Regions from separate parts of the Homo sapiens genome. Here region 2 is linked to region 1. Evidence: fine-mapped expression QTL. Tissue or cell type: sigmoid colon. Region 1 holds a variant in brackets; the other region holds the start of a gene. All regions are shown on one strand. Distances are between the middles of the regions.

Evidence for each region. PIP is the estimated chance that this variant, and not a neighbour inherited with it, causes the effect.
Region 2: it holds the start of GLB1L3, and the variant in region 1 is fine-mapped to the expression of GLB1L3 in sigmoid colon (GTEx, PIP above 0.99). The same link has a PIP of 0.9 or more in uterus and vagina.

The regions. Positions count from the first base shown.
Region 1 is chr11:134,351,889-134,359,992 of GRCh38, reverse strand. It overlaps GLB1L2 (galactosidase beta 1 like 2), which reads right to left. Exons shown (of 19, transcript NM_001370461.1): 6 at 3,600-3,692; 7 at 852-933. Among named protein-coding and RNA genes, the nearest start is that of GLB1L2, 24 kb to the right of the region's middle. RefSeq lists an enhancer at 753-1,276. The variant C/T (reference allele first, on the strand shown) is at 4,195.
Region 2 is chr11:134,272,193-134,280,296 of GRCh38, reverse strand. It overlaps GLB1L3 (galactosidase beta 1 like 3), which reads right to left and starts at 3,918. Exons shown (of 20, transcript NM_001080407.3): 1 at 3,534-3,918; 2 at 2,846-2,971; 3 at 2,385-2,597. The coding sequence starts at 3,556. RefSeq lists a silencer at 3,740-3,809 and enhancers at 4,260-4,309, 4,460-4,589, 4,650-4,759, 6,900-7,455.

The DNA of each region.
Region 1 (8,104 bases):
GGGAGAAGGATTGAGTGAGCCCCACGAAGGAAGAAGTTCAATTTCAAGTGTGGTGCTACAGAAAGCCTCGCTAACTTCGGAGAACAGCCATGTAGCTCTCTGGAAGAAGAGCAAAGCCCCCCAGGCTGGGGATCTGGATGTTGGAGGAACAGTAAAGAGGGTGAAACGGTGTGAGCAAAGGGAAGGAGCAGGAGGTGAGCTCAGCTAGGTCCTGGAGGCCAAGTGGAGAGGCCTTTCGAGGTCATTCCCAGAACCTGCGCTTCACTCTGAGTGTGACAGAGATGCCTGGCGTTCAGCAGGATAGGGTAATCTGGACGACATTTTCAGAGGCACACGGAGGCTGATATGCTGAGAACACATTATGGAGTCAACAGTGAAAATGCTACTGCAGCAATGCAGGCCAGGGGTGCTGCTAGCAGGCAACTGCTTAGGCCTGTAGGGATTCCAGGAGCACTGGGAGATAAAGCAAACAATGGCTTAGGTGCCAGGCGGAATGGAGAGGAGCTCACAGTCACTACCAGGTTCGGGGCCCATGCAGCTGGGAAGAACGGAGCTGCGATGTTCTGAAAACAGGAAGCCCGCACGTGAAGCAGTCATCTGCAGAGTGCCCTTGGAGCCCGAGTGCCCAGCAGGGCAGGAGAACAGCCACCCAGCCAGCCACGCACCACAATCTCTCACACAGACCCTCCCCACTCATGGAACCCAAGGGTGTCTGCAGCCCAGTGCCATATGCACGGGAGAATAACAGGCACCAGAGAAACTCCTACTTGGGTCGCAGTCCCACAGCGGGAGCGTGCACAGCCAGCCCAGGGCCGCCGCCAGCCCCCACGGCCCAACACAAGTGCAGTTACCTCCCTGGACAATCCCCTTGCTCAGCCCATCCTTGTTGTCTGAAGTCAGGAGCAGTTCCACAATGCCACGGTCCTCCAGTGCCTGTGGGGGAAATGAGACAAGCCCTCGTCTGCCCTGGCTCCTTAGAGCTTCTGCAGTGACACACAGCTGCAGTTGGGTAGCCTGAAGAGCTAGAAGGAGAGATGACAAATAAAGCGTTTATTTCTCTGCCAAAAACAGAAAAGTCTCCTGCCATCTGCACCGGCCATGCTCAGCACAGCTCCAATCAGCATGAATTCCCATCACAGCAGGGGCAGGGCTGGCAAACTAGGGCAGCCCCTGGTTGCTCCGGATCTGGAAGGTGCCCGGTGGGCCAGCTAGCATGCCTAGGCGAGTCTACACTGAGGCCAGCTCAGGGAAGCCTGCTGCCGCGTGTCACCCGCCACTGTCTGCTGGGCTCCAGCGAGTAGGTCAGGCCTCCAGGACGACACCTACATCCTTCCCTTCTCTCACAGCACAAGCAACAGGCCTGTCCCTTCCCCACGCTGGCCGGTGTGGGTTTGGGGGATGGCAAGGCCCAGGAGGGCCCACCATGCCCTGTCACGTGCCCACGGTGCACTGCCCATGCCCAGAACAGCAGGAAGCATCCTCCCAGCTGTAAAGCAGAGAGTGAAGTGGAAGAAACGCTGTGCTTGAGGGGCAGTGACGACAATCACCACTCAGAGCGTCCCCTGACATCCGCAGAGCAGTCACTGCCACGCCAGGCCCTCCGCTCATACACAGACTGTCCTACGCGAGCCTTGCAGTTGCTGTCTTCACAGTAGAGACGCGCCTCGGAGGCGTGAAGTCAAGCATCGCAGGTTACAGGGCCCATGGCAACGTGGGCCTGAACCCAGAGCCAAAGGCTCTGTGCTGAGGTGCTAGGATCTTTTGGATCAAAAATCCCAACAGAGGTGTCTTCTCGTAATCTTCCCTGCAGATATTATGCCAAGACTGTTTATTTCCGCTGAAATCTTTTGGAAGTGGATAGACAGCGAGATCATCTGCTGGGCGAATAAGGCTCGTGTCCAGTCCCACACGCGGGGAAGGAAAGAGCAGAGGGGGCTCTGGTCTCAGGCACAGGAGAGCTGCAGAGTTCAATCCATGAGCCCAGGTGGGATTAATCAAGAGTCCTGTATCTACCACCTCACACTATCATTCACTGATATTTAGCAAGCATTTACTTAGGTCCCTACCACATACACACACACTTAACATTTCCTGGGCATTCATTTACCGACTCCACCCCAGAGGGGATAATTGCTCCCGCCTGAGCACCAGAGATCTGCAGAGCTAGGCTGGGAGCAGGCACCTGTTCTCTCACACCACTCTCCCAGCAGCCTCAGAGAGAGGCTGGTGAATTCTCCCAAGAGCTTCCGGACCACAGAGGCTGGACGCTGCTGCTTCTCTTTGCCCACCTGAGTCACACATGGGCGCCTCCGCCCCGACACCAGGGAAGCATGAGTGGAGCAGGACGTCCCTGAGGGAGCTGCACTCTCCTCTCGTGGGGCTCTCCTTCTCTGCAGCTGAGTAACTGAGTCAACAACCGCTGAGAGGCCCCAGGGCCAAGAGACAGTCTGCGGGAATGGGGTATCGCAGGAGACGCTTCAAGTCCTGTGCTGGGATGGGATCTTTCTGTAGGAAGCTGAAGGAGTGCCCTACTCCAGGCCGTGGCTGGGCATGGCCATCAGAATGGACCTTGCCCCTTTCCAGCTTGAGGAATGCCACCCTTCCTGGACACGGCCTTGCTTCCTCCTAAGAGGGCTTTCTGCAGGTGAGAAGGGGGAAGAGTACGCATGAACCCACAAGTTGAAGGGACTGAGCCTCGGTCTCCCACGTGGAGGGACTGAATTAATTTCCAGACGGAAAATGCTCTGCACGTCGTAGCAGAAGGGATGCTGCCCAGGCATCAAGGCCCAAAGCCGTCCGGCCTTCAGGTAGGTGGAGTCACTGCGGCCACTTACACTTCCTCAGCTCACACCATGGCCGAACCTCCAAGGTACTCCACAGCAAATGCCAATGATTCCATCAAGGTCTTATTTATTGACGACTTACTAGAACAGTACTGAGCTGCGGGATATCACATCATACTCACAATTTGGAAAGGTAAATACTCCTATTAGTCACACTTTATAGAAGAGAGAAAGGAGGTTTAGAAAAAACTCGAGGCATTTGTTCAAGGTCTCAGCTACTAAGGGACAGAAAGCAGATCTGAATGTAGCCTGTTATTTTAAGTGTGGCTCTGCCCTTCGCTGGTCAGTCATGCATTGAGTCAGTGGCTCTCAGCCTTCCCTACACACTGAAACCAGATGTCTGAGAACCCCAAGGATTCTTCTTTGCTTGGTATGGTACATGGCCTGGGCGCAGGGATTTCTTAAAACTCCCCAGATAGAGCCAGTGTGCAGCCTGGGCTGGGAACCACTGCTTTAGACTTTAGAATTGGAGCCGCCTCTCCAGGAAGCCTTCCTAATCATCACCACGCAATTAAGCCAATTCCTTTATTCCCAGCCCCTGCAATACCAGGTGTGTACTGAAATTCCCAGATGAAACTCAATCAAGGGTAAATAAGTGACAACCCTGTTGAAATAAAACAACAGAGAAAATTCACTAATACATGATGTTGGAGGATGTATTAATATGAGAAAAATATTAGACCCACATGTCACACCACAGCCTATAGCACACTCCAGAGGAAGGAATCTAAAGAAACGCACTAAGAGGATTCTTACCTTCTTGACGTAGGGCATGTATGCGGGGTCTTTATTATAGGAACCATATTCATTCTCCACCTGCACGGCAATGATAGGTCCCCCACGCTTGTACTGCGGAGAAAAGACAGAAAACCAGGAGCTGAGTGTGCAGGGGAACTGTAGTATCCAACCCTGCCACGCCCATCACCAGTGACTAGCAAAAGATCCCATTGAAAACTAAAATCTCAAAAGATTAGTATCAATAAGACAGTGGAAGAAGCACTAGGCCCTTGTTCTCCCATGAAAACATCAAGAAAACAACTCCAGACTGACTAAAATAACTTAATAGGAGCTCTGGAAACCATTTAAGTGTCTAACCAAACAAGTGACCACCAAATCAAAACAAAAAGTCATATGCAAAATGGTACAAAATTGTATGATGTTTTCACAAGTTCTTGCCCCACCCCAATGTAGCATGGTGTGGTCAGGAGGATGCGTCCCAACTCCCCGCTCCCTCATGGGGAAGAAGCAAAATGGAACTTGTTGATAATGTTCTAACTTGTTTACAATGTTCTAACTTGTTCACGATGTTCTAACTTGTTCTGCCCAACGTACTGGTTTCTGTCTTGTCTGA[C/T]ATGGAGCTCAAACAGGAATCGTCAACATAGTTTGGACTTCAGGCTGGAAGCTAAAGATGGCAGCATATGAAAGCTGCCAGAGGACTATAAAGCCTTGGATGCCTGGGGGAAAAGAATTACAGCAAAAGAAAATGAAAAGCATCTAAGGCCACAAGAAGAAGCTGGGGTGAGACTCTGGGAATTAAAGACCCTTGAAAGCGACCAGGGAGGGGAGGTAGGGAGGGAAGCACACACACAGATACAGACAGAACACATGCCCAGAAAATATCAGCTCTTAAGTCTTCATGTTGGGCTGATCTCCGGGCTTAGGGGCCCACTAATTAGTGAGGGTTCCCCTGAAAACATGCAAAAACTGAAATAGGTGTTTGTTTTTTCAAAAGCCCAATGTTCAACCAAAAAAACACAAACATAAAAAGAAACAGGGAAGTATGACTCATCAAAGGAACAAAATAAATCTCCAAAAGCAGTATCTGAAGAAACACACACACCAGACTCAGTAGAGCAAGATCTATAACAGCTGTCGTAAATATGCTCAAGGAGCTAAAGGAAACCAGGCAAATGATATATGAAGAAAAAGAGAATATCAACAAAGAAACAGAGATTATTTTTAAAAGAACCAAAGGAACTTCTGGGGCTGAAATATACCATATATAAATTGAAAAATTCACTAGAGGAGTTCAACGGCAGATTCAAACAGGTAGAAGAAAGAAAAGCAAACTTAAACACAGGTTATCAGAAATGATCAGGTCTGAGGAGATAAAAGAATAAAGAAAAGTGAACAGAGCCTAAGGGGCTTACACAACATCTTCAAGCAGAATAATATATGAATTATGGGTTTCTTAGAAGAAAAAGAGAGATAAAAGGGCAGGGAGATTATTTTTACAAAATAATAGCTGAAAACTTCTCCAATTTGAGGAAAGACAAGATTATATAAATCTAAGGAGCTCAAAAAATTCCAGAGAACCACTCAGGGACACTCTATAATCAAACCATTGAAGACAAAGAGAGATTCTTGAATGCCAGAAAAAGTTTTGGTCACAGGCAAGGGATCCTCAATAAGACTATAAAGGATATCTCAGCCAGAAAATTTTCAGGCCAGAAGGCAATGAGATGATATAGTCAAAGTGCTGAAAGGAAAAAGTGTCAACTTTTTTTTTGACACTTCTATATCCAGCAAAACTCAAAAATGAGGGAAAAATTAAGAAATTCCCAAAGTAAAGCTAAGAGAGTTCATTACCACTAGACCTTCCCTAGAAAAAAAACACCTAAAGTTGAAATGAAAAAATGCTAGAGAGTAATTTGAAGCTATATGAAAATATAAAGTTCTCCAGCAAAGATAGACACATAAAAAATATAAAAATATTATTATAATTTTTCTTTACAATGTGGCTTTTTATTTTCTACAAGATTTTAAAAGACATAAAATAATTATAAATTTAAGTTAATGGGTACACCCAATATGAAGACATAATTTGTGACATCAATAAAATAAAGTGGAAGGGCAGAACTGTAAAGGAGTTTTTGTGTGCAGTTGAAGTTAGGTTGGTATCAATTTAAAACAGAATGTCACAACTTTAGGATATTATATATCCTTTACCTTATCCCAAGGTAAAGGGAATCGTTATAAAAAAGTGTCACTATAAAAAAATCAACTAGATACAAAGTAAAGCAGTCATAAAGGAAATGAGGGACAAAAAGCTGTAAGACATACAGAAAGCAACAAAATGGCAAAAGCAAGTGATTCTCTATCAGTAATTACTTTGAATGTAAACACATTAAACTCCCCAATCAAAAGACATACATTGGCAGAATGGATTTTTAACAAACCGATATCCAACTATATACTATCTACAAGACACTCACTTCAGATCTAAGGATATTTATTGGTTGGAAGTGAAAGGCTGGAAAAAGATATTTTATGCAAACAGTAATCAAAAGAGGAGGGGTGGCTTTGCTAATATCAAACAAAATAGACTTTATATCAAAAACTGTTACAAGAGACAAAGACATGATAAAATATATATAATGATAAAAGGGTCAATTCACCAAAAGGATATAACAATTATAAACATATATGCACCAAATGCCAGAATTCCAAAGTATATGAGCCAAACAGTGGCAAAATTAAAGGGAAAAATAGACAATAATAGTAGGAGACTCAATATCTGAATATCAATAATGGATAGAGTAACCAGACAGAAAATTAGTAACCAAATAGAGGACCTAGACAATATTATGGACCAGTTGGACCAAACATATATATACACAACATTCCACCCAAAAGTAGCACAATACACATTTTTCTCATGGGCACATAAAACACTCTCCAGGATAAACCATATAGTAAGCCAAAAAAACAAGCCTTAATAAATTTTTCTTTTTTAAAAAAAAACAGAGTCTTGCTCTGTCACCCAGGCTGGAGTGCAGTGGCACAATCTTGGCTCACTGCAACCTCCATCTCCCAGGTTCAAGTGATTCTTGTGCCTCAGCCTCCCAAGTAGCTGGGATTACAGGTGCCCGTCACCACACCTGGCTAATTTTTGTATTTTTTAGTAGAGAATGGGTTTCAACATGTTGGCCAAGCTGGTCTCTAACTCCCGACCTCAAGTGTTCCACTTGCCTCGGCCTCCCAAAGTGCTAGGATTACAGGCATGAGCCACCACACCCAGCCTCAAGCTTTAATAAATTTAAAAAATTGAAATCTTACAAAGTTTTATTTTTCCCAATCACAATGGAATGAAACTAGAAATCAATAACCAAAAAAGTCCTGAAAAATTCAAGTATGTGGAAATAAAATCTTCACCAATAGTCCAAAGAGGAAATCACAAGAGACATTAGAAAATATATTGAGGCCAGGCGCAGTGGCTCACGCCTGTAATCCCAGCACTTTGGGAGGCCAAGGCGGGCGGATCACCTGAGATAGGGAGTTCAAGACCAGCCCGGCCAACAAGGGGAAACCCCGTCTCTACTAAAAATACAAATATCAGCCGGGCGTGGTCACGGGCACCTGTAATCCCAGCTACTTGGGAGGGTGAGTAATGAGAATCACTTGAACCTGGGAGGCGGACGTTGTAGTGAGCTGAGATCATGCCACTGCACTCCTGCCTGGGCGACAAGAGCGAGACTCCATCTCAAAAAAAAAAAAAAAGAAGACATATTGAGAAAAATGAAAATGGAAATAAAATTATGAATTACAGTGAAAGCAGTGCAAAGAGGGAAATTTTATAGCTATAAATACATTTAAAAGACAAAAGGTCTCAAACCAACAACTTAACTTTATACCTTAAGAAACCAGAAAAAGGGAAACAAACTAAAAGGTAGCAGAAGTAAGGAAATAATAAAGATTAGAGCAGAGATAGACAATGAGAGAATAGAAAAACAATAAAGAAAAATTAATGAAACCAAGAGTTGGTTATTTGAAAAGATCAACAAAACTGACAAACTGCAGCTAAACTAAGAAAAAAGATATGACTCAACTAAAATCAGAAACAACATGAGGCTATTACTGCTGATTTTACAGAAATAAAAACGATTACAGAAGAGGAATATGAACAAATTGTACGCCAACAAATTAAATATTAAATAACCTAGATGAAACACACAAATTCCTAGAAATATATAATATGCCAAAACTAAATCATGAAGAAATATAAAATCTGAACAGACCTATAACTAGTAAGGACACTGAATCAGTAACTAAAAACCTCCCAACAAAGAAAAGTCCAGGACCAGATGGCTTCACTGGTAAATTCTACCAAATATTTAAAGAAAAATTAACGCCAGTCTTCCTCAAACCCTTCCCAAAAATTGAAAGGGAAGGAACACTTCCTACCTTATTCTATAAGGTAGAATACAGTAATAAACTCTTTTCACTTTTCTTTGGGAATTTCTTAATTTTTCCCTCATTTT
Region 2 (8,104 bases), 80 kb after region 1:
TGTCACGAAGTAAATCTCAACAAATTCCAAAAACCTATATCACATAGTCCATGATCCCAAGATAAATGCAAACAAATTTAAAAATCACAGTTAAATAGTAAAATTTAAATAAATAAATAAATAAATAAAACAGAAAGCGTATTCCCAAATAGCTAATAGAAACAACATCAAAACTTAGGAAATATTTGAAAATAAATGACATTCAAAGCACTATATAGCAAAATTTGTGGGCTATATAACCAAAGCAACACTCAGAGAAACATTCATATCTTTGAAGGAATATATTAGAAAACACAAAAGACTGGAAGTAAAAGAAGCTAAATTTTAACTCAGGGAAAAAGAAGAAGGAGGAGGAGGAAACTGAGAAGGACAGAGAAGAGAAGGTACTATATTTAATAAAGTAGAGAAAAGGAAATTACACATAACTCAGAAACTGTGAAATACAGATCCGAAATATACAGAGAGTACTAACAAAGCTACAAGCTAGTTATCTGAAAAGACTAAATAGATAAGATTAAGAAAAAAGAAAAAAACAGCCAAAATACACAACGTGATGTATATAACTTCCAAGTGAGTACAGGAAAGAAAGGAAAAATTTCTTAAGTCCCAGTGGGTTCAAAAGAAGAAAGAAGGCTGGGCGAGGTGGCTCACATCTGTAATCCCAGCACTTTGGGAGGCCGAGGCAGGCGGATCACCTGAGGTCAGGAGTTTGAGACCAGCCTGACCGATATGGTGAAACCCCATCTCTACTAAAAATACAAAAATTAGCCGGGTGTGGTGGCGGGAGCCATAATCCCAGCTACTCAGGAGGGTGAGGCAGGAGAATCACTTGAACCCAGGAGGGGGAGGTTGCAGTGAGCAGAGATCGCGCCACTGCACTCCAGCCTGGGCAACAGAGCAAGACTCTATCTCAAAAAAAAAAAAAAAAAAAAGAAAAAGAAAACAGAAAGAAAAAAGAAAGGAAAGAAAAAAAGGGGGAGAGCAGGATGTATTCAAGAAGAAATAGAGGACATGAGTTAATAACCATTCAAAGAGCTATGTCGTCCCCAAACCCTTCACCTCACAAACCACAAAAGATAGTAGTCACAGAGTTTACAGGTGAATCTTAAGAAACTTTCAGGGTAAAGATAATTCTTGTGCAAAATATTTCCAATAAGTAAGAAAAGAAGATTTACTCACTTTATGAGCTTATTATAAGATTGATTCAAAACTGGACAAGAATACTAACAAAATAAAATTTTAAATCCGTTTTGCTTATAATCATAAACACATTTGAAATAAAACACTAGCAAATAAAGTCTAGCAATCTGTGTGTATGTAATGTGTGCCTATCTCAGAGCCAAGCAGAGTTTATACCAGTACCACATGGCTGCTTGACTATCAGAAAAATTGCCGTTGTAATTCAGCAATTCAAAAGAACAGTGAAGAAAAACTATATTGTCCCCCCAATACATGCAGTAGCAGCTCTCAATAAAACTCAACGATTATTTCTGATTAAATTCTTTGCATTTTAAATGAACCAGTTTACTGCCTCTCAGCTTCAAATTCACCCTTCAATACCAGCTCTGCAATAAGGCACAGGGCCCTCTAAGCATCTTCTCCTTTACAGTGAGTGTGATGGTAAGCTTGCCACAAAATGGTGGTGGCAGGCCCTCAGGAGGACAGGGCCTCTGATTCTGGAGCAGTTTTGCTTTTTTGTGGTCATACAGGGTGGCTGGTCAGTTGTATACAGGCATGAGGACGACCGTGGTGTTCCCTTTTAAAGGGTGAACTGCTTGAGTCCAGGAGTTTGAGACCAGCCCAGGCAACATGGCGAAACTCCATCTCTACAAACAATTCAAAAAATTAGCCTGGTGTGGTGGCATGCACCTGTGGCCCCAGCTGTTCAGGAGGCTGAGGCAGGAGGATCACCTGAGCCAGAGAAGTAGAAGCTGCCGTGAGCTAAGATCGGGCCACTGCACTCCAGCCTGAGCAACAAACAGAACAACAAACTGTGTCTCAAAAAAAAAAATTTTTTTTTGTTTTAAAAACATGCATGTATCTGTAAGTACATATTTATCTGTAAGTGTGCCTTAAGCTTATGTCATTAAACTGAGTGCTCCCAAGGGCGCCTGGTGTTCCTTCATTAGACAGACAGAATCCTGAGGAAATAACCTCCTCCCTTGAGATTCTCCCACTAACCCCTATCCAAGTCTTTGATCACAGAGCAAACTCAGCATGAGACTAAGTGACAGCTGGACGCTTAAGCATTAAATGTATGTGCTGGAAACGACTGTGCGGAAGGTAAGTCCTCACGCTGGGCCCCCAAAATCGGAGGCTCAGGTTCCCGGCCAGGATGCACTTGTAGGGTAACGAGATCCTGGAGGTGAGGGGCCGGCACTCACGTGGTGACAGTATTGAAGCCACAGGCCTTCAGCTTCAGCAGGCGGTCCCTCCAGTACTCCCTGGGCACCCGGAAATAGTGGATGGAGCCCCCGAAGATCAGGAACTTGTGGCCCTCCAGTGTGAAGTGGGGCTTACCCCGACCTGTGCTTTCAGTTCCAAGTCCCACAGATCGATTCTTCAGCTCCAGAGGGGTCAGATGAGACCAATTAAACCTGGAGGGGGCGGGCGAGGGAAAGAAAGTGGAAAGGGAGAGAGGATTCGGGAGAGGGCTCGGAGGCACGGCTGAAACCCTAGCGAAAAGAAGTTTTTGTTAGTAGGACGTGTTCTGTGCATATGTTAGTAGGACGTGTTCTGTGCATATGTTAGTAGGACGTGTTCTGTGCATATTCGCGATACTATTTTCTCCAAGAAAGGAGAGATCGCTCCCCTCCCTCCCCAGGGATGTAGCTCTCAAGCAAACCTAGGCTGGGACGGATGCGCTCTTCCAAGCATGAAGTTCTCTTCCTGCTTAAACCGAGGAGCAAAACCTGATGAGATAAATGGCAGGAAAAAGATGCCCGCCATTCTCTTCCAGGAGAGACACGGGCTGAAAGGAGAAAGGACAACAGTGACAAGGGGAAGGTTCCGGCCCCACCGGGCTGCAAGGGCCGGGAAGCTGTGCCGGGGGCGCTTTAGAGGCCAGAGCCAGGGAGGGGGCCCGCGACACAGGCGGGTCTTCCAGGCGGGCCCAGGGCCAGGACAGCGCGGCATCACCCGGCCAGTCCTCTGCAGCCAGGATGAAGGCCGGGGACAGACGTTCAGTCCTAGACCCTCCAGACAGGGCTGGGCAGTGCCGGTGGGTGCCTGGGAGAGGCGGAGGCGGGCGCACTTCCAGCACCAGGTTCGGGAAGGACACGGTGCCCAGCCGCTGGAGCCCCTGGCCTGCGTGCCCCACCCTGATTTTCTGGCATCTGGTGAACGGCCCCTCCGCAGGGTGGGGGTAGCCAGGGGATCTGCCGAGGAAAGCTGGGGACAGCGGGCTTGGTGGCGCGGCCCGGCGCGGCGCGTGCCTGGGGCGCGTGGCCGGCCACAGAACCCGGGGAGGGTGGAGGCTCCCGGGCACGCGCCGGGGTGGTGGGCAGCCCGGGACGGCAGCGGCGATCCGTCACCTGAGGAGGGGCGGGGACTTCATCGCGGCCAGGCCGAGGCGCCGAGGGTCCCTTGCGGCTTCCGCCCCTCTCCGCTGGCCCCGACGCCGCGCTCGGGCCGGGACTCGAGCCCCGGTTCCGCGGGGCAGGCTCAGGTCTGCGCGCTGCGCCTGCAGCCGAGGCAGAAATCCGTCCCGAGGCGCGGGCGCCGGGTCCGGGTCCCAAGGATGCGCGTCGGGCTCCCTCCCGCGGGGACAGCCGAGCTCCGCCGGCGCTCCAGGTGTTCCCGCAGTGCGTCCGGGCGCGGACGCCTCTCTGCCCTCGGAGGGGAAGCGGGAGGGCCCTTGGGGTAACGCCCCGACCTCGGGCTTCCTAACCTGGGTCGACAGCCGGCTGGCACAGGGAGGCCTGCGCGGGAGAGGGGCGGAGAGAGCGCAGCGCGGGGCACAGCGGGCGGTCTCCGTGCCGCGCGCGCGACTGGAAACGGCGTGCAGATCCTAAAACGAGGGTTCCACAGAGGGCCACGAGGGGCAGGAGAGAGTCCCCGGAGAACTCTAGCTCCCCGACACGGCTACCTCTTGGCAAACGAGCGAGAATTGGGGCGCAGAGCCTTGGGAGGGCCGTTCCCTCGGCGGGAGCGGCCCGAGCACAGCCTCACAGCAGATGCGAGCGCGGCGGGCGCTTTGGTGACGAAGTAGCGGGACCTGCAGGAGGCAGAGGCCTGGTGGGGCCGTGGACGCCACGCCGAGCTGCCCAGACCCTTCCAGAAGACAGTGGGGACTATTCAACGGTTTCCAGCAGAAACTAAGCCAGGTGTTCGTTTTACGGAGATTGCTCGGCTGCAGGGTGGAGGCTGGATGAGAACAGGCGTCCTCTCAGGTAGGCGCTCGTGGTGGTAACGCTGCCCAGGAGGAGGGCACGGGTTCCGGGAAGACTTGCGAGGTTAAACCGGCAGCTCCGGAGAACTGAGCGCAAGAGGTCGGTGACACAGAGAGGAGTCCGGGAGGCCGCATGTTTCAGGCTGAAGTCACTTGGCGGGGACGTTTATTGAGATGCGAAACACAGGAAGGGATAGAGGCTGCGCAGAGGGAAAAGGCGATGGACTCGGTTTTGGAAACGCTGATGTGAAGTCCCTACGATGAAAAAAGAAATCTTCCGATTTCTCCCTTTGAAGTCTTTGCTTCTTCCGTTGCAAAGAACACAGCCTATGACATCAGGTTGAAACCAAGAATGTAGTTCTCTGAAAATACTGTGTGTGGGGGAGGGAGTTTATCTTGTCTCATTCCTTACAAGGATACTTTGCTCTCCGACACCTTAGCTCCCTGAAAGTTTCCTAGATCGTCCATCTTTTCCTCATTTTTTCGACTGCAAGCAATGAACTGTTAATTTTTTACAGTTTGGTTTTACAGCCACACACTTTATTCTTCTTTGTCAAGTTTAAAGTATTCTAGGGCTTGTGCCTTCCCACATAAAATTTAGAATAAACTTGTCTGTTTCTACAAAAAGCCATGTTGGTATTTCGAGAGGAATTGCAATCAACCTATGGATCAAATTGAGAATTGTATCCTTATTATGTTGAATCTTCCAACCCACGAACATGGTATGTCTGTCTATTTAAATAGTTTTTTTTTTTTCACTTCTTTCATCAGAATTGTGTGATTTTTTCAACATCAGATCCTATCACGTTTTGTTAGGTTTATACTTAAATATTTCCTTTGCTCTCAAGAGATTTAAACTGTTATTATTTTTATTTCAGTTTTTACATGTTTGTTGTTAGCATACAGAAATGTGATTGTGTTTCTCATGTTGATCTCATATCCTGTGACCTTGGCAAACTCACCTATTAATTTTAAGAGGTTATTTGTGTATTACTTGGCATTTTCCATGTAGATAATCATGTCATCTGCAAATATGGAGAGTTTTATTTCTACCTTTCCAGTCTGCGTGGCTTTTTATTCCTTTTTTTGTGTGTCTTAGTATGATGACTAAAATTTCTGTGTTGAATAAGAGCGGCAGGAACTGACACTGTTACCTTGTCCCCAGTGTCAGCTGGAAAACATTCTGTTTTTCACTATTAAGTATGATGACAGCTATAGGTTTTGTGTACATATTCTCTATCAAGTTGAAAGAGTTTGACAGCTGGGCCTGCAGTCACTAGAAATGCTGTGGTGCTTTATTGGAACAAGCTATGTATCAAGAATTGTGATTTTCTGCAGGCGTTGCTGGAGGAATTTTGACAAAGGTAGAAGAATCAAATAATGGATTATTGGTTCATTTGAAAGATGACATATCCTGTGTCCTTTTGCCATCTGGGGCTCCCCTCTGCTGATGGAGTATTTGAGAACCTCTATGAAGGAGCCCTGGAGAGTGAAAGTTCCCCCAGATTTCTGTGCTCATTAAACCTGTAGAACTCTTGAAAATGTGCAAGGTGAAGTAACAATTTTGATCAAACAAAGCTGTCAGTTTCTGTCTTGAGATTACAGAAGTAACTCTACAAGGCCAACATCCCAAGCACAGGAAAGACCAGCCACTAGGGCCGCAGACCCAGCATCCTGGTACAATTTATTAAAAAAAAAAAAAAAAATCAATATTTTTCCCTTCAGTTTCCATCCAGATAACTGATAATGAAACAAAGAGCTAATTTCCCAAAGCAGGCAGAAAGCATCAAAAAGCTCCCAGAGCTGAGTGTGCAAACTTCCTGTGCCAGTGCTTTGATGTTAATAAAGCACAATTCCTGCTCCTAAATTGCTCTCTTGTAAGAACAGCAGCTTCCAGAAAAAGAAGGCAGCACTTTCTGTTGCTTTAGTAGTGGACAACCCTATAGGAGTTAATGTATGAACCAGAAAAGACAATTCTTGATTTCTTCTTAGGTTGAACTTCTTAAAGAAATGTATGTGACAACTGTATAATAAGAACCCTTGTGAGATCCAAAAACCTGGGTTAGGAACTAATATTATCAGTGAAAAATTAAAGGGAAAGATTATCAACTATTAATATTCCAGTGTCAGAGAGCTGTGAACAAAGAGTTGAGGCAGAGATATCTTTAAGGTTAAAGTATGCAAAATCTGTTGTTTACTTGTAAGATCATCTTTCTAGGTTTATTGATAGTTAATAAAAAGCAGCAAAATTTATAAAAGTGAAAATTTAGCCACTTCTACTTGTAAGCCATCCTTGTTAGAGAAACTCTTTGTTTACTTAAGTCATGTTTACTACAGGAAATGAAAAATGCTCATTTGAGCTATAAAATGGACTCCGTGGTCTCTTAGTAATTAATTTAACCCATGATGACACGCAGTTCACAGGCTGAGATGGAGGGATAGGTAGATGACAGATACATCCCTGCTAGAGATCTTCAGAGCCCTAGCTTTAAATTTCATCCTTACAGACATTCAAACTTTAAGTAAATTGATAACCTGTCTCCCACAGATTAAAAAATAAATGAAGTGGATATGCACCCCATCACGCAGGGCCACTCCCAGCAGAGGGAAGTGAAGCAGCCGGCCTCCTGTCCCTCCACAGGGTAACTAACGCTCAAGTGCAGGCCTTTCTAAAGGAGCTGCTCAGCAGGCGGCAGCCCAGCTCGGCCACCGGGCTCTGGCTGTTATCATTCAAATGTGCCTTTTTTATGGACTGAGTCTGCTAGATGCATTCATTAGTTAAGGAAATGGAAAATCATGCGGAGCTCCAGGTGAGAACCCAAGGTTAAAGTGTGTTCTCAAGAGTCTTCTCCCCTGGGAGTTGAAGTTAATCAGCCTGATCAGGTCGGGGGGGAAGGCTTCCTCTCTGCATGAGTGCAGCCTTGGTGATGGAAAAGGGCCACCCTTGAGAAGGTAAGAGAGGAGGGAAGATCGCTGTCTCCATGGGGCACCCAGCAAGAGGCTGCTGTCCTTGCAGATAACCTGATCCATTGAGCTAAGAGCTGGATGGGGAGTGTCTGTAAGAATATTAAAATCCTTATCCAAAAGTGATTTATTTTCATCAGGTTTTTTCCTCTGTTATGAATAGCTGACATTTACCAAGCACTCGTGTGCCAGGCACAGTTCTGCATGTTTGACATTTCTGTCTATTGTCTCTTAACTCTCACAGCACCAGAAAGCGGGTACCATTAGTATCCCTCCTTTATCAGTGAGGAAACTAGAGCACAGAGGCTTTCAGTGACGTCACACAGCAGGCTGTTGACAGCTGGGATCTGAAGGCCCTGGAATGGAAAGATTCAGTCTCATATTGCCCAATTCGGTTCGCTGGACTCTGCTCAGCAAGCAGCCGCGTGCGAAGCACTGCTCTTGTTCAAACTAAGTGAGATGGCCTAGGTGAAAATGCTTCAGGAAAAGCACACAAATGCACTTAAAATTAAAGTATAACCACGTGGCTAGCAAAGCGGAAAGTGAAATGCTTCTAAACCATCAGGTCTATAAAATAAACTATGGGAACATGGAAAACTATATCCAAATATTAGAAGGCTTAAAAATTCTTCTGTTTTTTCGGCTGGGCGTGGTGGCTCACACCTGTAATCCCAGCGCTTTGGGAGACCAGAGGTGCACACCATCATGCCAGGCTAATTTTTGTATTTTTTGTAGAGATGGGGTCTCACA